Regions from separate parts of the Homo sapiens genome. Here region 2 is linked to region 1. Evidence: fine-mapped expression QTL. A gene starts in region 1. The other region holds a variant in brackets. All regions are shown on one strand. Distances are from middle to middle. Region 1 holds the start of EPHX2 (epoxide hydrolase 2). Region 2 overlaps EPHX2 (epoxide hydrolase 2).

Region 1 (11,682 bases):
TAGAAGGGTTTTTGGAGTTGGTGAAGAGTGAGAAGTGCCTACTCTGGCTGACTTAAGCACAGAATTTGAGGGCAGGATATCAGTGAGGGCCCTTGGGAGCTTGGAGAACTAAGCCTGGAAAACAAGAGCAAGGTCATTGCCAAACTCATAGCACAGAACTGGACTTGTGAAGACACCACTGCTGCAGTTGGGCGCTGAGGGCCTCGGGGCCTGCACCGTCCCTGCCAGCCAGGGACCCTGGCCGCTGCTGCTGCTGCCCTTGAAACTGCCGACCGACACCCTTCTCCTCTGGCCTGTTTCCTTCACCTGCTCCCACTGTAAGGGCTGGGTTGGTGCACCTGAGTTGCTGAATGGAGCTCACAGGCCTTCACTCTCACTTCCAGGCAGGCTGGGGAGTGGGCACAGGGCATTTCCAAATTCTGCAGTCAATGCGGTTCTTCCTTCTATCAACATTCATAAGGCCGGTATGCGTTATAGGGTTTTTATTACAAACTACAGAGCTTCCTCTCGGTCATATAAGCAGAAAGGTTCTTATTATAGGACATTAACACACAGAATCTCAGGGAGGACAAGAGATGCAGCTTTGGAAACTATATAGCCAAGAACAGCACAGTGACCGCAGGCCACCCCTTGGTGCAATTTTAACAAAGCCACCACTCTGCCCCAGCGTGGGCACCAAGTACACTCAGGACCAGACCAGAGAAGCTCCATCACAGCCTCCCCAGAAAAACTAGATGCTGCTGCTTCTGCCTTCGCTGAAAGAAAGTTCCCGCTCACACAGCTGTGGCTTTGGGCTGCCCATCCCCATTCCCAAATCCCTGGCGAGTATGCCCAATTGGCAGAGCCCGTGCACCTGGCCAGCATTAAGGAAGCCTGGGCAACATGTTGTTTGTGGATTCTACTGTGAGAAGGTAGAACTCAAAACAGTAGTAGTTCTCAAACAGTGAGAACTATCAAAATAGAAGATGTTGAAAGGATGTTGTGTATCTCTGAAGCAGAACTTCATCACTGCCAGATGGAATTTTCTCTTCTTCTCTACTCTACTCTTCTCTTCTCTTCTCTTCTCTTCTCTTCTCTTCTCTTTTCTCTTCTCTTCTCTTCTCTTTTCTTTTCTTTCTTTTGACAGAGTCTTGCTCTGTTGCCCAGGCTGCGAGTGCAGTGGCATGATCTTGGCTTACTGCAACCTCTGCCTCCCGGGTTCAAGCAATTCTCCTGCTTCAGCTTCCCAAGTAGCTGGGATTACAGGTGTGTGCCACCACGCCCAGATAAGTTTCGTATTTTTAATAGAGACGGGGTTTCCCCATGTTGGCCAGGCTGGTCTCCAACTCTTAACCTCAGGTGATCCACCCACCTCAGCCTCCCAAAGTGCTGTGATTACAGGTGTGAGCCACCATGCCCGGCTGGAATTTTCTGTATGTAAGAAAAGGTTATAGATGTTAGGAAGCTGGAAAATGACAAATAAGAAAAACGGCAAGTAGCCACCACCACTATTCCCAATCTCATTCTTCTCACTGCTCCAGAAGCCACCAGCCACTACCATTTGAATTCATTATTCCACTAAAATGGAAGATCCTTGACGGCCCCTATATTTGTCTGATTTATTTAACAATTGATCCCAAGTGCCTAGAACAGTGCCTGGCACATAGAAGATGCTTGATACATATTTGCTGATGGAATGAAAGACGCTCGTTCATTTGCCGCATTGAAAAAAAGACAAAACTTCAAGTGGTTTGTAGGTTTAGAAAACTGCCAGAGGTAGCTTTACTTTGAACTCCATGAGTATCTACAGTAGAGAGAAGCAGCAGTGTAAAGTCCTCCCTCCCAACCCCTAGTGGTTAAACAGATTTTATAAAATAGGGTTTGACAATCAAGGACTAGCAGGAAGTTGCAGAAGGCACAGGAATGGCAGAAAACCCAAAATAAACCTTAATGAGGTCAGTGTACATTCATTATGAATTTAGTGATTGAAATCAGGTGTAATTTATAAATTTTCACTACTACATTAGCCATCTTTTATGATTCATGCTATCACCTAAAACATATTTCATAAATATTAAAATTAGAAGACATAGGGGTTAGGATTTACATTTCAAAAAGCCACCCAGTTCCCATAGCCCTGCTGGGTAAGCCCTTATCTCTCTGTACCTTAGTAGCAGAAAACACAGGAGAAGCACGACCATGAAAAAGGGCAAAGTGCAGTGAAATGCAATTGAGACCTTTAATCTTTGCCTAAGCAATTCAGCCAGAAAGCTCTGTAACTCACAAGGCATTATAAAAATATTCCACACCAGAGCTATTTACAAGTTAACTGCTCCTGAATAAATAAAAGTCCATGTGATAGCTTCATGGCTTTCTCTTAACCAAAGAGGAAAGTAAAACTCATATTTCTATGTTTTTAAATTTTTCTTCTCAAAAGGGGGCTTTATGAAATCTAGTTCTGTAGGTATGTCGTTCCTCTACACTTTACTGCTTGTATAAATATACTTACGTATTCATAAGCAATACTGTGCTAGATGCAGAATTCAGATGCAGGCAACAGAAATCACTGTAGTTATTTTAAATAGAAACAGAAGAAAGGGATTTAAGATGAGAGACTGCAAGCCTACACAATCTTTGAACGGAATGGAGGAGTGAGCTCCAGACTGAGCCTTTAGGAAGGACTCCCAGAAAACACCACCATAGAACTAGAAGCTGCTATCTCTGCCTCAATCAGCAGGCCACCGCTAGAAACACGAACATATGGTTTGGCTGGGAGCCAAGGATCTGGAAGCAACTCCGTGGTCTCGGGACTGAGCCACTGAGTCAATGGGGATGCCAGTTTGTAAGATAGGGAACACACTAGGAGGAACAGGCGTGGGAAGTAGAAATGCAGAGAGAGTTCTGTTTTAGCCATGATAAATTTGAGATGCCTGTTAGACACTCAAGAGAAGATGTTCAGTAAGAAGTTGGATATTGACGTTGAGTAAGATGTTGAGTAAGAAGTTGGCAAGTCTGGAGCCCAAAGGAAACTCTAAGTTGGAGATTTAATTTCTTTCTTTTTTTTTTTTGGAGGTAGAGTCTTGCTGTGTCACCCAGGCTGGATGGAGTGCAGTGGCACAATCATGGCTCACTGCAGCCTCCACTTCCTGGGCTAAAGTGATCGTCCCACCTCAGCCTCCTGAATAGCAGAGACTACTGGCATGCACCACCATGCCTAGCTAATATTTTATTTTTATTTTTTATAGAGAGAATGTCTTGCTTTGTTGCCCAGGCTTGTCTCAAACTCCTGGCCTCAAGCAATTCTCCCACCTCAGCCCCAAAGTGCTGGGATTACAGGTGTGTGCCACCATGCCCAATCTGGAGATTTAACAGGTTTCATACTATATAGGTCAGGCTGCAATTTTCTTTCTATTTTTTAAAATTCAATTATACCTTTGAGATCAACTAACTTCATGAGAAACTAGCTTGCTGTACTCCCTTCTCTGCCTATCTTTCAGTCTTCAAATCCAGAGTAATCCAGTTTCTACCATAAAGGGCCCACAAAAAGTGTTCTGAAACATCCGGTGTCATCCAAGTCCAAAATTGGACAGCTTTTTTTTCAGTTCTTCCTGTAACATTTGGCAGTGTTGGCCACTCTCTGCTTCTTTGGCAAGAATCTCAGAAAACACTAATAACTGCTCCAGGCAGGAGCCTGGAAGAGGTTACCAAGCTAGAGAAGGAAGCAACAGCATAGCTTGCTAAGGGCAAACAGCCCAGAGGAAACCCACGGCTCTGGTCAATCCTGTTGTTGATTGCTAGATCCAGAGACTGTTGTAGACCTCCCAGTTACAGTGAGGTATCTGACAACCCCTCACAAGGTTCTTGAAGCTCCGTGGTGGAGGGTATCTTGGATAAATCCACAGAGACACATTCAAGAGTAAATTCTCCACTGTTGGAGACCTCACTCACTCTGTTTGGTCTCCACCAAAGACACGGTTTTTAATTCATGGAGCTGCACTACAACAGCTCAAGAACTCCCAGCCAAAGTTTTAGTTTTTCTAGGAACATAAACGAGCCAATAGTGTGGAAATCGGTGATTAAAAACAAACCTCGCACATTTTAAGACAGAATTATTACAAGTAGCATGTACAAAAGGAAAATAATAGCCTACATTTAGTTCTTCTAAGCTTCATTCCACAAGAGATTGAAATCGAAGTATTCTGGGCTGGCACACGATAGCTGGAACATCATATTTTATTCTAGAAACACATTTGCCTTGGCAAAGAAGAGCGTGCCTAGAGGAGTGGTCAGGATAGTGAGGGATCTGTGATCCTTCGTTCTGAATCTAGAAAAGTCACTGGATATGCCCCTCCCCCGCCCCCCAACACGGTCTTATGTTCTGAATGTAGAAGTCACTGGATGTGCTGACACACACACACACACACACACACACACACACACACACACACACACACACACACAGAGTCTGTGGCCTCTTTCCCAGGCATTCCAAGTCCAGCAAGTTCGCAGGGAGCTGTCAGTCCGTCCAGGAAGGCCCGGGCCTGGGTTTGCCTCTTCAAGCAGCTACTGCAGGGGCGTGGGGAGGGGGCATAAGAGACTTTGGACTTTCCTTTGAGACAGTAGAAAGCGTTACATCCAGAGGCGAGATTCTAGCCTGGGGTCCCCGCCTTCCCGGCCTCCTCTTCCTCTCCCTCTGACTCCCTTTCCTGTGCCCCTCCCCCTGCCTCTTTCCCGGCCAGAGTCCAGCCTTAACCCGGGCAGAGGGCGGAGTCCCGTTAAGGGGGTGTGGGGAGGAGGCGGGGCCAGGGCAGGGGCGGGGCAGAGCCGGGCCAAGCTGGGCGGGTCATGCGCCCTGGCCTTCGCGCATCTCCCAGGTTAGCTGCGTGTCCGGGTGCTAGGCTGCAGACCCGCCGCCATGACGCTGCGCGCGGCCGTCTTCGACCTTGACGGGGTGCTGGCGCTGCCAGCGGTGTTCGGCGTCCTCGGCCGCACGGAGGAGGCCCTGGCGCTGCCCAGGTAAGGGGGCCCAGCGCCGCCGCCGCAGTGGGTCGGGGCCTCAGGAGGCAGACCGCGCTGGGCTTGCAGCCCAGCTTTCAGATTGCTCCTGTGCCGGAGCCCTGCGAATCATGCGAATCATGAAACTGAAGACCTGGCCCTGAAGTCCCAGTGCATATGAGGAGATCCGTTGTCTTTCTAAATGTTCATAATTAAACGTTGCCAAGGTCTCCAAAATTGCTTTCTGTGAACTTTTCCAAAAGGGAGAGGAGTTACTCATGGAGCTTTGTGCTTCTGCTGCCTCCTGTCTAATGGGGTGGCGCTTAAAGATGCGAGCCGAGATTCAGGAGAGAAGAAAGTTCTCTCCCCAGGTGTGGGTTGCATGCTTACTTGTGTAATAGCAAACTGCAGCAACCGCCCAAAGCCACATCACTGGGAAATGGTAGATGGGGTGTGCAGAGTGAGAGCTCAGGGACTTGGGAAAACACCTGTTCTACTACATGAAAAAACCACCCCACCAGAATCTGAAGCTATTTATACAATATGGTTTCAGCTATGGAAAAAAGGTACATGCAGAAAAGTGCCTGAAAGAAATAGGCCAAAGTACATCAAATGAGATTAGGAATAATGTAATGATTTTCTTTCTCTCTCTCTTTTTTTTGTGTTTTTTTTTTTTGTAGTTTCCAACTTCTAAATTTATAAACAATGTATTATTCCCACATTCAGAAAGGAGAGAAGTATACTTATTTATAAAGTGAAAAAGAAGGCCAGGCATGGAAGCCATTGTTCATATCCTCCTTTTACATATGAGGAAACTGAGGCACAGAAAGAAACCAGCTGTCCAAATCACATAGCTGTTAAAGAGCAGAGCCAGAAATCCAACCCCAGTAGTCCATGTCCGGAGCCTTTGCTTTTAATATAGTAAGGAAGATGAGATGGCAAGTAGCTTGAGGGAAAGGCATGTAATCTCTGTGCTTTGGGAAGCTAAGGTGGGAGGATCACTTGAGGCTGAGAGTTCAAGACCAGCCTGGGTGAAAGAGCAAGACCCTGTCTCTCCAAAAATAAAAATAAAATTAGCTAGACATTAGTGCATGCATGTAGCCCCAGCTACTTGGGAGGCTAAGGCAGAAGGATTGCCTGAGCCCAGGAGTTGGAGGCTATAGTTGTGTCCAGAGTTGGTTCCTGTCGGTGGGTTCGTGGTCTTGCTGACTTCAAGAATGGAGCTGTGGACCTTCGCAGTGAGTGTTACACTCGTAAAGATGGCGCAGACCCAAAGAGTGAGTGATAGCAAGGTTTATCGTGAACAGCGAAAGCACAAAGCTTCCACAGCATGGAAGGGGACCCCAGCAGGTTGCCGCTACTGGCTGGGGTGGCCAGCTTTTATTCCCTTATTGTCCTCTCCCATGTTCCATTTCTGTCCTATCAGAGTGCCCTTTTTTCAATCCTCCCCGTGATTGGCTACTTTTAGAATGCTGCTGATTGTGCGTTTTACAGAGCGCTGATTGGTGCATTTTACAATTCTCTTGTAAGACAGGAAAGTTCCCCAAGTCCCCACTCGACCTAGGAAGTCCAGCTGGCCTCACCTCTCAATCCTCCCTCATAACAGGACACCCCACCTGCTACTGGGAACTGGGTGATGACCACTCTAGCTACTTCCTGCTGGATAGGGGCAAAGAAGGGGCCCTGCCGTTGTAGTGTCCTCCAGAGGGGAACTCTCTAGGCCAGTCAAAGGGCCAGTGGGTCAGTCTAGCAGTCCTCGGTAGAAGTTGTGAGTTAAGCTCATTTGGGGTTCCATTTGTAAGACCATCTGTAGCTTGATGGCCTTGATCCTGGAGGAAACAAATTTGAGGAGGAGGTTAAAAATACAGGGACTGAAGGTGAGTAATAGCAAGATGGCTGTCACGGGACCTAGAAAGGGGAGAAGCCAAGTCACCCAACTCCAGAGGTTGGTATAAGAATTTGAAAGGTGTTGTCTGGTTTCAGAAGCCTTTTCCTGTAAATGCCAGGCAGCATCCTGTACTATCCCTGACTGGTTAGTTTAAAAACAACACTCCTCCCCTAAGAAGGTGCAAAGTCCTCCTTTCTCAGCAGTGAGGAGGTCTAGACCTTAGCGGTTTTGGAGAGTCACTGTTGCCAAATAGTCTATTTGGGATTGTAGAGTAAGGATAGATTTATTTATTGCAAACTGTCTGAGAAATCCTTTGAGAGTGTATGGTAGTAGGATAATGAAGTAGTTAAACTGGCTATTCTGGTTCCTGTAGCAGTGGGCATTCCTAGCCCTATAAGTAGGGGTATTAGTTGTATGGTCCTGGGCTGACAGACTTGAGCTTTGAGGGGCACTGATAGGGTCTGATTTCCTGTGGCATTGTTAGTGTTGGGACTTAGGAGAAGGTGCAGGTGCCTGTCCAGCTGGTGGGAGGCAGATATAGGTTGAAGTTCCACATAAGAAGAATATGCCTTGGCTGGGTAGAATAAACTGGTTGTGTATGTTAAAAAGGTGTGTGAGTTTGTTTTCATTTTCCCACACTCCTAGAGTACTTGCCAAGGTAGCTCTGGTGAGCAGCTGGAAAGGGTGTTGGGAGCAGACTGAGTGGCTCCCTGTGCTCTATTTTCCCATTGGAGAAAAAACCGTTTTGTATCTACTAGGAACCATCCAAGAGAGTAATTGAAAGAGGGGATAAGAAGACATACACTAGTGGTGGGGGCGCTGCTGCAGGGGGTCCAGGGGTGAATGGTCATGCAGGGAGTATGTTTGCCATTACAAAACCCAGACTGTTTGTTAAACAGGGAGGAGGTGATGATTTTGGGGGGCCCTGAGAAGCAGACAAGCCATCTGAATGGAGGTGTTTGGGTGACTCAGGAGTTACTATGATCAGTTGGGGCTTGAAGTTATAGGGTGTAATTACACTGATGGGATAGTAGGTGCCCCAGGGGCAGGCCTGATAACAGGTTGTGTTGGATGCATAAAAGGGCTTGGAAAGTTAAGATGGTATTCGGTATTCGTGGTCACAAGGTCTTGTATGGGCTTTTCCTGAGGATTGTGGCCTCCAGGCACAGTGAAGGTGATATTGTATCTCTAGTGCCCTGGAAACTCCCTGAGTTACCATGGCTTTAAAAGCCAGACCATTGTCACTTTGTAAGCTTTGGGGAAGCCCAAATCTAGGAATTACTTCATGAATTAGGACTTTAACCACTTCTTGAGCCTTCTCTGTCTTGCAGGACAAGGCTTCATCCAATTTGCAAAGGTATCAACACAGACCAACAAGTATTGAAATCCCCTTGACTTAGGCATATGGGCGAAGTCTAACTGCCAGTCTTCTCCTAGATAGTGCCCTATTCTTTGTTCCCCCAGAGGGGCCTTATGATGGACCAAGGGATTATTCCTTTGGCACACCTCACAGGCTTTGACTACTTGTTGGATGGTCTGAAGGAGATTTGGCCCTGTAAATAGGGATTTGGCCATTTGATGAGTGTTCTCAATACCCATATGAAAAGTTTGGTGGAGGGTCTTAAGTATTTTCCACTGGCTGGCTTCGGGCATGAGTACCTTTCCCTCTTCTGTTGTTAACCACCTGGAGGGGAGAAAACTATGCCCCCATGAAAGTCCTCATTCTGTTTCGGTTGGGGAATACTGGGGCTTAATCTCTTGGAGAGGGTTGTTCCATACCAAGGGTCCTTCCGTAGGTATTTCTAATGGGAGGTTCCACCTGGCAGCAATTTTGGCCTCAGTGTCTGCCTAATGGTTTTCTTCTGCCTTTTCTCCTTCACCTTTTGATGGCTTTGGCAGTGTAAGACTGCCACCTCTTTGGGTTTTTGCACTGCGTGCAATAACTCCATGATTTCCTTGTGGTATTTAATGGGGGTTCCCCTGGAGGTTAGGAACCCCCTTTCCATATTGCAGCATTGGGCATGTAGGATTAGATAAGCATACTTGTTATCTGTATACACATTTATTTTTTTTTCTTTCCCAGTTCTAAGGCTCAGGTAAGCACCACTAGTTCTGCTAACTGGGTGCAGGTCCCTGGGGAAAGAGGCTTACTTTCAAGTACTGTTACATCACTAACTATGGTATAACCTGCCCTTCATATCCCATTCTCCACAAATGAACTTCCATTGGTATATAGGTTAAGGTCAGGATTAGCTAAGGGGACTTCTAAGAGATCATCTCGGGCAGCATAAGTCTGGGCTACAATTTGTTGGCATTCATGCTCGATTGGTTCCCCATCCTCTGAGAGAAAAGTGGCAGGGTTCAGGGCCACACACAAGCGCCTGGTATCTAAGCAGGCAGTTGTCTGACAGCCATAAATTTCCTTTGGCACCTAGTATGCCATTTACATCATTAGTAGTCCAGACAGTGAGATCCTTTCTTTGTATTATTTTGATAGCCTCCGATACTAAGATGGCCACTGCTGCAACTACCCATAAACAGTAAGGCCAGCCTTTTGCCACTACATCAGTTTCCTTACTTAGGTATGCCACTGGTTGTGGGGTTGTCCCACGAGTCTGAGTAAGGACTCCAAGAGCTATTCCTGCTCTCTCTGTGATGTATAAAGAGAAGTCTTGTCCTTTGGGAAGGCTTAAAGCTGGAGCTTGTACTAGGGCCTGCTTTAAGGTTTTGGAGGCTGTTTCTGCCTCTGGTTCCCATTCTACTAGATTAGTGTTTGCCCTCTGGGTCTCCTTGATTAGAGCATAGAGTGGCCTGGCCATCTCGCTGTATCTGGGGATCCATAGTCGGCAAAAGCTGGTGATCCCAAGGAACCCCCACAACTGTTTTAATGTCTTAGGGCAAGGACAAGCCAGTATAGGCTGTATTCATTCTTTGCTTAGAGCCCTGGTTCCTCTGGCTAAGATTAGGCCTAGATATTTGACTTGTAGGCAGAGCTGGGCCTTCAGTTTAGATGCCATGTACCCTTGATTAGCTAGAAAGTTCAAGAGAGCTAGAGTAGCCTGCTGGCATGAGGCTTTTGAACTGGTAACCATAAGTAAATCATCCACATACTGAAGGACCAGAGTGCCTGTACTTGAGAAGTGGCCTAGATCTTGGGCCAGTGCCTGACCAAACAGATGAAGGCTATCCCTAAACCCTTGAGGCAAGACCATCCACGAAAGTTGGGACGTGTGGTCTGTGGGATCCTCAAAGGCAAAGAGAACCTTGGAGTCAGAGTGCAGGAGAATGCAGAGGAAGGCATCCTTGAGGTCCAGAACAATGAACCATTCTGCTTCCTCTGGTATTTGAGAGAGCAGGGTATAGGGGTTGGGTATAGCTGGATATAGAGGAATTACTGCCTCACTGATGAGTCTAAAATCTTGTACTAGTCTCCACTGAACGTTCGGTTTTTGTACTCCTGGAATTGGGGTGTTGCAGGGACTGCTGCATTTTCTTACTAAGCCTTGAACTTTTAAATGTCTAAAAATATCATGTAATCCTTTATGAGCTTCAGGCCTTAAGGGATATTGCCTTTGATAAGGAAAAGTGGTGGGGTCTTTAACCTGATTTGGACTGGGCAGGCATTTTTTGCCCTTCCGAATTGTCCTTTCAATGCCCAGACTTCAGGGTTGATTCCCTCCTCAAGTAGGGGACAACAAATGGGTAACTTGTTCCCCATATTTATAGAGATAATATCTCTAGCTTTGGCTAATATGTCCCTCCCTAATAAGGGTGTGGAACTTTCAGGCACAACAAGAAAGGTGTGTGAAAAGAGCAAAGTCTCCCAATTACAACTGAGAAGGTGGGAAAAATAGCTGGTTACAGGCTGTCCCAGGATTCCTTGGATGGTAACAGACCTTGAGGACAGCCATCTGGGGTAGGAGATTAACACTGAGAAGTCTGCACCAGTGTCCAGGAGGAAGTCAATTTCCTGGCCCTCAATGGTTAAACTTACCTGGGGCTCAGTCAGGGTGATGACATGAGCTGTCACTTGCCCTGGGCACCCTCAGTCCTGTTGTTGGATCATCCGGTTGGGGGCTTCTGGCCCAGAGAACCTTTGTCCTCTGGGGCAGTGTGCCTTCCAGTGATTGCCTTGGCATAGTGGACATGGGTGAGGGGGCAGCTTGTTTCTTGTTGGACAATCTTTTTTAAAGTGTCCTTGCAAAGCACACTGATAACAAGCCCTACTGGGTGATTGGCCTGCTCTGTTTTCTGTCTTCTCTGAACCACCAAGGTTTGTTTGTGTGAGGGACATGACTAAGGCTGCGGCCTTTCTCTTATCTCACTTTTCCTTTTTGGCCTGTTCCTCTTGGTCCCTATTGTAGAACACCAAGGTTGCCAGGTTTAATTATGCCTCCAAATTTTGTTCAGGGCCCAGGGATAGCTTTTGGAGCTTTTTCCTGATATCTGCGGCTGATTGGGTAATAAACTTATCTTTTAGAATCAATTGACCCTCGAGGGAGTCAGGTGACAGGGGAGTATATTTTCTTAAGGCCTCCTGTAGCCGCTCAAGGAAGGCAGTAGGATTTTCTACCTTTTCCTGAGTTATGGTGGACATCATTGAATAATTCATGGGCTTTTTCCTAATTCTCCTTAGTCCTTCTGGAAGACAGGTCAACGGATGTTTGCGACTCCAGTCCCCATGATCTGAGTCTAGGTCCCAGTGGAGATCCATACTGGGGACGGCTTGTTGACCGGTAGGGATTTGTCCCTTTCTTTGGCTGTCATTCTGTCATTTACTTGACTAAGATACCATTTACTTGACTAAGATACCAAACTCT
Region 2 (11,682 bases), 54 kb after region 1:
CAGAAGAGCCCAGCCTCAGCAGGATGGTCACTGAGGAGGAAATCCAGTTCTATGTGCAGCAGTTCAAGAAGTCTGGTTTCAGGTAAAGAGAGCACAGGGCCCAGACACAGATGAGAGATGATCGACAGATAGGGATCTTCAGCCCTCAGGGTGGAGGGTGAGGCCCAGTTCTCCTCCACCACAGCCCTCGTTAGTGCCAGGCCAGCCTCTGCTTCAATGCCTCCAGTGTCGGGAGGCTCACTACTTTATGGTGCTCAGCCTGCTCTAGTTTGGGATAGCTCAGCTTGTTCTTCCTTATGCTTATGGGGCCCCCATAGGGCAGAGGGTTTTCACTACTTTTTAGTCATGGCTCCTCAGAGAATCAGATGGCAACTCTGGGCTCTTTCTTCAGAAAAACATAAAAATCCACATAAACTCAAAAAGTGCATACATTTTGGTGCATTTGCCCTACTTCCTGATGTCATATTAGGAGGGGGCATCTTTGCTCCACCTCCCAATGTCCCTCTCAAGTGGGCTCCCTGGGGCAGGCGAGTGGCCTCTGGATGGTGAGGCTGCTAAACCAAGTTCCCCACCATCAGCAACCTCCCCAGCCTCCAAGGTGACACGATGACATTCCCTGGAGGGTCCTGTAGGGCCGGCTTCTTTGTGTCCCAAAAGCCAACCTAGAGGCTGCCAGTTCACTCAGTGGAGTCCTGTGTCCTTGCACAAGGCCTTGCTGCTAGAGCTTGGCAACTGCGCCCGACAGCAAGGCGTGGGTCCTGGGCTCTATTCTCTTGCCCCTGCAGGAGGCTTTGCTCTTCCCAGGACGACTGGCTGTGCAGAGCAGGTTTCTGCTGGTGTCTGTAGCAGAGCCGTCTACTTACTGCCTCCCTCTTTTTACTTTCTGATCTCTCCCCAGAGGTCCTCTAAACTGGTACCGAAACATGGAAAGGAACTGGAAGTGGGCTTGCAAAAGCTTGGGACGGAAGGTGAGTGCCAGGTTCAGTGTAGTCTCATCCACACCCCAGGACCCGCCCGCGGGGCTTCCCATTGGCCTGAGCTGATATGACCTGGGCCAGAGCTGGTTGTGGACAGATCTGCTGGCCACCTCCTTTCCCTTTGGGGTTTGGGAAGTGACTCCCTTCAGGGGTTTCCCTAGGATCTTTCTTGCTGGTGCTTCTCTTGGGATGGTAGAGGGTGACCTTGGGGATGGAGCTGGGGTGTGTCCAGGGAACTGCAGCATCCATCCGGAATCCCCAGGTCCCCTGGTGGTACCCCAAGGCAGGGCTGCAGATGGCCTGGGGCACCTCCCAGAAGTGACATGGATACTGGAGCCCCCAGCCCAGAGGAGCGTTAGGTGCTCTCAGAGATGTGACTTTAGCCTTCGGTTGTGTCACCTTGCACAAGTCAATCTCTGAGTCTCAGTTTCCTCATTTGTCAAGCAGAAGATGAGTTTCCAATCTCTGGGTCTGCAGAAGGAGTAATGGAGGTTCCCAGTTTACATTCAAAATGTTTAAAAATCTAAGGGAAATCTGTTCCCCAGTGTGACTGCACAGGTAGCTAGGCCTTCATCAGCTCACTCAGTAGCCATGGTTACCTTGTTGGTTCACTCTGTAAGTGAACACACTGCTACATGCCAGACTTCCTGCCAGACCCTGGGATACCATGGTGTGTAAACAGACCAGGTCTTGACCTCCCAAAATTAAGTCTTGAGGCACTAGAGTATATAACATCGTGGTTAAGAGCAGGCTAGGAAGCACATGGGCTGAGTCTAATCCCTGTGTGACCCTGGGAAAGGTACTTAACCCCTCTGATCCACTGTGGCTTCTTCTGCAATATGCAAGTGGCAAGAACAGTGCCTCCCTCACAGAGCTGTGTAAGGATGAAATGGTTGAAGGCATGTGACCTGTTACAAGCAGTACTGGGAACCTATTAGCTCCATTAGTGTTCCTTGTCATTATCATCATATGACCGATGAAAATGACCAAACTGCAGTTGGACAGACAAAATCTCTCAAAGCGTGGAGGAAAATATTGACAAAGGCGCTGGGAAGGTGAATCCCAATGGTGCTAAGGTCAGAAACCCTCCTCTTCTGCAGTTTATTTTTTGAGACAGTCTTGCTCAGTTGCCCAGGCTAGAATGCAATGGCACGATCTCGGTTCACTGCAACCTCTGCCCCCTGGGTTCAAGCAATTCTCCTGCCTCAGCCTCCCAAGCAGCTGGAATTACAGGAGTGCGCCACCACACCCAGCGAATTTTTTGTGTTTTAGTAGAGATGGGGCTTCACCATGTTGCGCAGGGTGGTCTCAAACTCCTGAGCTCAGGCGATCCACCCACCTCGGCCTCCCAAAGTGCTGGGATGACAGGCGTGAGCCACTGCACCCAGCCTCTCTTCTGCAGTTTCCAGCTGGATCTTCCTCTCTCCTCCCCCACCTCCTCCCATCCCATCCTCTCCCCCCCCCGCCCCCCGCCCAGTTCACATTTTAGCTTGGAACTTTCTAGAGTTTACAAACCTCATAGAAGCCTCAGGATTCGTTTTAGCCACAAAATCATTTTTGACCTTCTCCTGGCTCCTGGTTGTGGGAGGAGGGAGGGGTGTGGAGAGATGCCCATCACTCTGGGTGTAAATGAAAATAGTGCACGTTCCTCAACCAGGGATGGGTCAAAGCTGCTTGGAAATTAGGGTAATGGTGGAGCGAGAACAAAGGAAAAAACACAGAGGCTTTCCTGGCCTTCCTGTGCATGCCTCCCTGTGTTCAACTCATTTGCCAGCAATTGGAAGTTACTTTGCTGCCATTCATGTCACATTGATTACTACTGTGGCTGCCCCCATTTTCTCTGGAACCTTGGTCGCCCCTTTTAAGCATCTATTTAATTCAGGGAAGAGGAATCTTGATCTTCATTCAAGGGTGTCTTCTGCCTTCTTGGTGCCATCAATTCGGTTCTCCCAGTTACATGCAGCTCAGCACACGTTCTCACTCACACACATCTGCACACATAAGACCCATATTGGCCTCTGCACTGCTGAAGCTGTTATTTTAAAGATCTCCAGTAATAACCACGAGTCTGTTGTGCAAAGTTCGGCAGATACAACGTCAGGACCACAGCAGGGTGGCGAGCAGGGGTCTTTCAGAGGAGGAGGGAGGGCTTCCTTTGTGGAGTGCTGGCCACTTCTGTTTCCTGTTCTCCCCCCAGATCCTGATTCCGGCCCTGATGGTCACGGCGGAGAAGGACTTCGTGCTCGTTCCTCAGATGTCCCAGCACATGGAGGACTGGGTGAGGGAATGGCCCTGTACAAGGGTCATCAGTGCACCCCGGGAGAGGGCACGGGTGCTCAGAGGGAAGACGGCAGCAGAAGATACACCTTGTCATGTGGATAGGACCATGGTTGAAGCACATCATCAGTAACATCACTGTCCCCCCATTGCAAGCAGCAACCGTGACTGTACCTTCCTTTCCCCTGCATGGATGTGGGGTCTCATTCATTCATTATTCCCTTCCTAAATCATGCAGGGTTTGGGCAGGGTGGCCTGCGGGGAGCAGAGAGAAGGCGTCCATTGCCCATTGCACTAGCTAGAGACACACCCATCTGCCTTCTTCCATTTACCTTTCTGCCTGGGGTTTCCTTTCAGATTCCCCACCTGAAAAGGGGACACATTGAGGACTGTGGGCACTGGACACAGATGGACAAGTAAGGAGGTTGGGGGCTCCTGGGGTCGGGGAGAGCAGGGCCCCCCGTTCACCTTCCATAAAAGCTTTCCTGGTTTCATTGTGCTGGCTTTGGCCTGGCTTAGCCACTCATGTCACTCACCTCTGCCTTCGAGTTGGCTGGGTAGGTGCAGACAAGTGTGAATGGCTATTTTTTTCTTTTACTTCTCCCTTTCCCCCAGGCCAACCGAGGTGAATCAGATCCTCATTAAGTGGCTGGATTCTGATGCCCGGAACCCACCGGTGGTCTCAAAGATGTAGAACGCAGCGTGTGCCCACGCTCAGCAGGTGTGCCATCCTTCCACCTGCTGGGGCACCATTCTTAGTATACAGAGGTGGCCTTACACACATCTTGCATGGATGGCAGCATTGTTCTGAAGGGGTTTGCAGAAAAAAAAGATTTTCTTTACATAAAGTGAATCAAATTTGACATTATTTTAGATCCCAGAGAAATCAGGTGTGATTAGTTCTCCAGGCATGAATGCATCGTCCCTTTATCTGTAAGAACCCTTAGTGTCCTGTAGGGGGACAGAATGGGGTGGCCAGGTGGTGATTTCTCTTTGACCAATGCATAGTTTGGCAGAAAAATCAGCCGTTCATTTAGAAGAATCTTAGCAGAGATTGGGATGCCTTACTCAATAAAGCTAAGATGACTATGCTGCTGGCTGTCTTTGTTCTTGGAGAGGTGGAGTGACTGTTCACGGAGAATGCACGGCATGGGGATGAACCCTTTCCCTCTGCTTTTGAGCCCTGTTCTGGGCTCCAAGGTGCTGTATGATCTAGGCCGTGCTGGCCAGGAGACAATCCTATGGGGATGGCAGTGGTGTCTTGTGCTCTGTCCCCTAGAGCAGTCACTGGCCACAGGTAGCCACCTGCCTTTCTCCCGGCTTCCCTAGCAGAGTTTGCTCAGGCACAAATGTGCACCTGGAGCATTTGAAATGTGCTAGTGAGGCTGAGGAAGAGAATTTTAAATTTCATTGAATTGTAATCAGTTTAAAGTTAAATAGCAGCAGCTGCCATGAGGCTCAGGCAGATCCAGCTCATCTTCCCCTCTGCCCCCTCCTCCCTATCTTCCCCTCTACCCTCTCCTGCCTCCTGTCACATCCGGTTAGGCTCCCATCTCACTGATGTGTCTCCTGCAGTGGTCTCTCCCCTGCCCTGCTTCCAGCCCCAGAGTCCTGGAGCAGCAGCCTCCTCACGGGTCTTGCCGCCCACATGGTTGGATCCTGAAACTCGCAGGGCCTCCCCCAACTGCCCCTGCCCACCCCCAGCCCGGCCCCATCACCCTCCAATTCCTAACCGCCCTCCAGCAGCACACTTGCAGGTGCTGATCCTCCTTGACCCTCTGCCTAACTTACCCATTCTTTGCCTGGAATATTCCTCCTGCCACCTCCTCCAAGCCCATAGGCTGGGTTCCGAGCCCTTTCTGCCTGCCCCCCTTGCATGGTTATCGGGCTCACAGATGCACGCACAATGGCCTCGCTGCTTGCGAGAGAAAGTGGTCCCTCCAAGCTGAGTTTGGCATGATGACGGGCATGAGTTGGCCAGGTCACAAGAGCCTGAGTATCTGTGTATAGGGAGAAAGCCAGGAGAGGTTTGAAATGGAGGCTGCTGGCATTTCTTCACTGCCCTAGTGCACCTGGAGTCTTCCATGCACCACCTCTGATCCTTCCAGAGAGTCCTTCCCATTTAACCGAGAGGGAAACTGAGGTTCAGATAATTTGCCCAGGACTGCTTGGCTAGATGGGGGCAGAGCCTGGATTCAGAAGCAGGCTTTCTGGCTCCTAAGGCTGAGCTTTTTCTACAAAAAAATGTTCTCGTCGCGCCACTGCACTCCAGCCTGGGCAACAGATTGAGACTCCGACTCAAAAAAAAAAAAAAAAAGAGAAGTTCTCCTTTCTAAATCTGGAGCCAGACCACCTAGGTTAGGCCTCCGGTCAGCTGCATACTCGCCTTGTGACCTTGAAAAAGGATATCTGTGCCCCAGTTCCCTCATCTATAAAAAAGGGGACGTTAGTAGGACCTAACTCATGGGTGGTTGTATCAAGTATGTTAATAATATGCACAGAGTTCTAGAACAGTGCTTGGCATGGAGGAAGTGCTATGGAAGTATCAGCTATAAGATTTCCAGTTTGTCTTAGGACAAGACCTCTAAGGGCTTTCCATTTCCAGCCATGCCACCACCATCTCAATCTTTTGCATCTGAGAATTAAAGGGCTAATTTAAAGGCAATCATGAGGACTGGGGGAAAGGCTTACACCAGATCACATTATTTTCCTAACTGGGTGTATTCAAGCTCATTTGTAAGGGAGCAGTTGGGGGAAAGGAAATAATCAAAACCTAAAA[G/A]CGTCCTTTACTGGAAGGAGCACAAACAGCAAACCTGTCTTCCCGAAAGTCTCGCTTTTAATATTCTATCCAGTCATCTCCATCAGCCATCAAAAAGGCCTCAGAAATTCTGCTCCTTTGGCAAGTAAGAGTTGAATAACTCCATTCCATAGCATTGCCAGAAAATATAACTGGTTATACAAGATTGAGGGCTGTATCGGTCTGTTCTCCCATTGCCATAACGAACTACTGGAGACTGGCTACTTTATAAAGAAAAGAGGTTTAATTGGCTCACGGTTCTGCAGGCTTTACAGAAAGCATGGCTGGGGAGGCTCCAGAAAACTTACAATCATGGCAGACGGTGAAGGGGAAGCAGGCACATCCTACGTGTCTAGAACAGGAGGGAGAGAGAAAGAGAAGGGGGAGGTGCTACACACTTTTATAAACAACCAGATCTCATGGGAACTCACCATCACGAGAACAGCAAGGGGGAAATCCGCCCCCAAGATCCAGTCACTGCCCACCAGGCCCCACTTCCAACATCGTGGATTACAATTTGACGTGAGATTTGGGTGGGGACAGAAATCCAAACCGTATCAAGGGCCATAAAGGACAGTGGACTGGAAGAGGTCTTTAGGTTTTTCAAGAAGATAGTGGAATGTCCAGGGCTATGTTTCCTGGTCTGCTTTGAGGACCTTTGGGCCACACGTCAACTGTTGCAGTGGTGGTATCAGGGCATTCCCTGGAACAATCAGGGAAGATTTTCAGATGCCATTTTAAGTACAAATGGCAAGGAGTGTGTTCAAAATGATTTAATTATAAAATGCTATATTTTGGGATTGAATTTAATTTGTAATTAACATACTAGTACATATTCATGGGGTACATAGTGATGTTTTGATACATATAATGTGTAGCAATCAGATCAGGGTAATTACACATGTCATCTCAAACATTTATCGTTTTTGTATTGAGGACATTTAATAACCTCCTTCTGGCTATTTAAAACAATGTATCATTGTTGACTGTAGTCATTGCTCAGTGCTATACAACGCTAGAACTTACTCCTCCCATCTAGCTGGAATTTGACATTCCTTAAATCCCTCCCTATCCCCCACCTCTTCCCCAACCCTTCCCAGCCTCCTATCCTCCATTCTACTTTTTACTTCTAGGAAATGAATTTTTTTTTAGCTTCTGCATGTGAGTGAGAACATGTGGTGTTTCACTTTCTGTTTCTGGCTTATTTCACTTAACAGAATGCTCTCCATTTCCATCCGCGTTGCTGCGAGAGACAAGATTTCATTCTTTTTTTGTGGCTGAATAGTAAAAATATGTTATTTTTATTTCATGATTACAAAGGGAATAGATTACAAGTATATTCCCCTCTGCTAAAAGAAATCGGCCCTTAAAAAAGAGGTCCAGCAGTCTTCATATTCTCTCTCACACCCTCCAGCAGTGGGTTGTGCTGCTCCCGGGAGGAGGCTGAGATCACTCACATATTCTGTCAAGGAAGGACCACTTAGTGGCTGTCAATTAGCAACATCCAAGGTTTCCAGGAGACCCGTCTTCTAAAAAGTGAGTCTATTAGACTAGACAGGACAAAAAGCTATTTCTGTCTGTCTTGGGGTATAGGGAACCCACGGTTTTAGACCTTGACATGACTGTCCACCAGTTTCCGTGTCGTTCACAGCCACATTACCATCAATACAAATTAAAAGCAAACAATGGTTAAAATATCTAGGTCAGAGGCTCAAAGGGTTTTTTTCCAACAGGAATTGGGTGACAAATATTATGCCTCACTGTTCAAAGGACTCCATCTGGCCACAAATGATAAAATACTTTCTTGCCTGAGCAATTGTAAAGTGTCAACTCCTGCACCCAAATGTGTAACTGTCTGTCTCCCTGTTAGACTGTGAGGGCCCTGAGATCGGGGGCTGCCTGTCTAAGTAATTCGTCCTGAAACCCAACCCAGCACTGGCCTGGCATATGTAAAATGCTCATTAGACGTTTGCTGAATAAATTGGAGAGTATATGCACAAATGGATGAATGGACAAATGCATTAGTTTCAAGTTAAAATAATTAAAATTTGATCGGGCATGGTGGCTCACATCTGTAATCCCAGCAATTTGGGAGGCCGAGGCGGGCGGATCACCTGAGGTCAGGGGTTCAAGACCAGCCCAGCTAATATGGCAAAACCCCATCTCTACTACAAATACAAAATTAGCTAGGTGTGGTGGTGGGCACCTGTAATCTCTGCTACTTGGGAGGCTGAGGCAGAAGAATCGCTTGAACCCAGAGGCGGAGGTTGCAGTGAACCAAGATCATGCCATTGCACTCCAGCCTGGGCGACAAGAGGGAAATTCCATCTCTATAAATAAATAAATAGCCTAATGTCCTCGAGGTTCATTCATGTTGTCGCATGTGTTGGAATTTTCTTTCTTTTTAAGGCCAAATAATATTCCATTGTATGTATAGACCACGTTTTGTTTACCTACTCATTCAGCAATGGGCACTTGGATGGCTTCCATATTTTGGCTATTATGAATAATGCTCTGAGCATCAGTGTACACATATCTCTTTAGGGCTCTGAATTCAGTCCTTTTGGGTATATATCAAAAAATGGAATGGCTAGATTATATTGTAATTTCTATGTTTAATATTTTGAAGAACCACCAGATGGTTTTCCATAGCTGGTTTCCATTTTCTGTTTTTTTAATATATAGAATGGCCATGTGATGTCCCATGATGGTTTTATTTGAATTTCCCTAATGATTAGTGATGTTGAATATCTTTCCTTTTTTTAAATTTATTTATTATTATTATACTTTAAGTTTTAGGGTACATGTGCACAATGTGCAGGTTAGTTACATATGTATGTATACATGTGCCATGCTGGTGTGCTGCACCCACTAACTCGTCATCTAGCATTAGGTATATCTCCCAATGCTATTCCTCCCCTCTCCCCCCACCCACAATAGTCCCCAGAGTGTGATGTTCCCCTTCCTGTGTCCATGTGTTCTCATTGTTCAATTCCCACCTATGAGTGAGAATATGCGGTGTTTGGTTTTTTGTTCTTGCGATAGTTTACTGAGAATAATGATTTCCAATTTCATCCATGTCCCTACAAAGGACATGAACTTATCATTTTTGATGGCTGCATAGTATTCCATGGTGTCTGTGTGCCACATTTTCTTAATCCAGTCTATCATTGTTGGACATTTGGGTTGGTTCCAAGTCTTTGCTATTGTGAATAATGCCGCAATAAACATACGTGTGCATGTGTCTTTATAGCAGCATGATTTATAGTCCTTTGGGTATATACCCAGTAATGGGATGGCTGGGTCAAATGGTATTTCTAGTTCTAGATCCCTGAGGAATCGCCACATTGACTTCCACAATGGTTGAACTAGTTTACAGTCCCACCAACAGTGTAAAAGTGTTCCTATTTCTCCACATCCTCTCCAGCACCTGTTGTTTCCTGACTTTTTAATGATTGCCATTCTAACTGGTGTGAGATGGTATATCATTGTGGTTTTGATTTGCATTTCTCTGATGGCCAGTGATGGTGAGCATTTTTTTCATGTGTTTTTTGGCTGCATAAATGTCTTCTTTTGAGAAGTGTCTGTTCATGTCCTTCACCCACTTTTTGATGGGGTTGTTTGTTTTTTCTTGTAAATTTATAGGAGTTCATTGTAGATTCTGGATATTAGCCCTTTGTCAGATGAGTAGGTTGCAAAAATTTTCTCGCATTTTGTGGGTTGCATGTTCACTCTGATGGTAGTTTCTTTTGCTGTGTAGAAGCTCTTTAGTTTAATTAGATTCCATTTGTCAATTTTGGCTTTTGTTGCCATTGCTTTTGGTGTTTTAGACATGAAGTCCTTGCCCATGCCTATGTCCTGAATGGTAATGCCTAGGTTTACTTCTAGGGTTTTTATGGTTTTAGGTCTAACGTTTAAGTCTTTAATCCATCTTGAATTGATTTTTGTATAAGGTGTAAGGAAGGGATCCAGTTTCAGCTTTCTACATATGGCTAGCCAGTTTTCCCAGCACCATTTATTAAATAGGGAATCCTTTCCCCATTGCTTGTTTTTCTCAGGTTTGTCAAAGATCAGATAGTTGTAGATATGCGGCGTTATTTCTGAGGGCTCTGTTCTGTTCCATTGATCTATATCTCTGTTTTGGTACCAGTACCATGCTGTTTTGGTTACTGTAGCCTTGTAGTATAGTTTGAAGTCAGGTAGTGTGATGCCCCCAGCTTTGTTCTTTTGGCTTAGGATTGACTTGGCGATGCGGGCTCTTTTTTGGTTCCATATGAACTTTAAAGTAGTTTTTTCCAATTCTGTGAAGAAAATCATTGGTAGCTTGATGGGGATGGCATTGAATCTGTAAATTACCTTGGGCAGTATGGCCATTTTCACGATATTGATTCTTCCTACCCGTGAGCATGGAATGTTCTTCCATTTGTTTGTATCCTCTTTTATTTCCTTGAGCAGTGGTTTGTAGTTCTCCTTGAAGAGGTCCTTCACATCCCTTGTAAGTTGGATTCCTAGGTATTTTATTCTCTTTGAAGCAATTGTGAATGGGAGTTCACTCATGATTTGGCTCTCTGTTTACAGTCTGTTGTTGGTGTATAAGAATGCTCGTGATTTGTGTACATTGATTTTGTATCCTGAGACTTTGCTGAAGTTGCTTATCAGCTTAAGGAGATTTTGGGCTGAGACAATGGGGTTTTCTAGATATAGGATCATGTCATCTGCAAACAGGGACAATTTGACTTCCTCTTTCCCTAATTGAATACCCTTTATTTCCTTCTCCTGCCTAATTTCCCTGGCCAGAACTTCCAACACTATGTTGAATAGGAGTGGTGAGAGAGGGCATCCCTGTCTTGTGCCAGTTTTCAAAGGGAATGCTTCCAGTTTTTGCCCATTCAGTATGATATTGGCTGTGGGTTTGTCATAGATAGCTCTTATTATTTTGAAATATGTCCCATCAGTACCTAATTTATTGAGAATTTTTAGCATGAAGAGTTGTTGAATTTTGTCAAAGGCCTTTGTGCATCTATTGAGATAATCATGTGGTTTTTGTCTTTGGTTCTGTTTATATGCTGGATTACATTTATTGATTTGCATATATTGAACCAGCCTTGCATCCCAGGGATGAAGCCCACTTGATCATGGTGGATCAGCTTTTTGATGTGCTGCTGGACTTGGTTTGCCAGTATTTTATTGAGGATTTTTGCATCAATGTTCATGAAGGATATTGGTCTAAAATTCTCTTTTTTGGTTGTGTCTCTGCCCGGCTTTGGTATCAGGATGATGCTGGCCTCATAAAATGAGTTAGGGAGGATTCCCTCTTTTTCTATTGATTGGAATAGTTTCAGAAGGAATGGTACCAGTTCCTCCTTGTACCTCTGGTAGAATTCAGCTGTGAATCTATCTGGTCCTGGACTCTTTTTGGTTGGTAAGCTATTGATTATTGCCACAATTTCAGAGCCTGTTATTGGTCTATTCAGAGATTCAACTTCTTCCTGGTTTAGTCTTGGGAGATGTATGTGTCAAGGAATTTATCCATTTCTTCTAGATTTTCTAGTTTATTTGCGTAGAGGTGTTTGTAGTATTCTCTGATGGTAGTTTGTATTTCTGTGGGATCAGTGGTGACATCCCCTTTAT

What was found.
Region 2: its variant is fine-mapped to the expression of EPHX2 in whole blood (INTERVAL, PIP 0.92).

What each region holds. Positions count from the first base shown.
Region 1 is chr8:27,486,315-27,497,996 of GRCh38, forward strand. It overlaps EPHX2 (epoxide hydrolase 2), which reads left to right and starts at 4,829. Exons shown (of 19, transcript NM_001979.6): 1 at 4,829-4,995. The coding sequence starts at 4,895. RefSeq lists a cis regulatory region at 2,572-2,886 and a silencer at 4,633-4,912.
Region 2 is chr8:27,540,575-27,552,256 of GRCh38, forward strand. EPHX2 (epoxide hydrolase 2) reads left to right here. Exons shown (of 19, transcript NM_001979.6): 15 at 1-82; 16 at 899-968; 17 at 3,175-3,255; 18 at 3,612-3,670; 19 at 3,870-4,990. The coding sequence ends at 3,948. Among named protein-coding and RNA genes, the nearest start is that of EPHX2, 55 kb to the left of the region's middle. The variant G/A (reference allele first, on the strand shown) is at 6,034.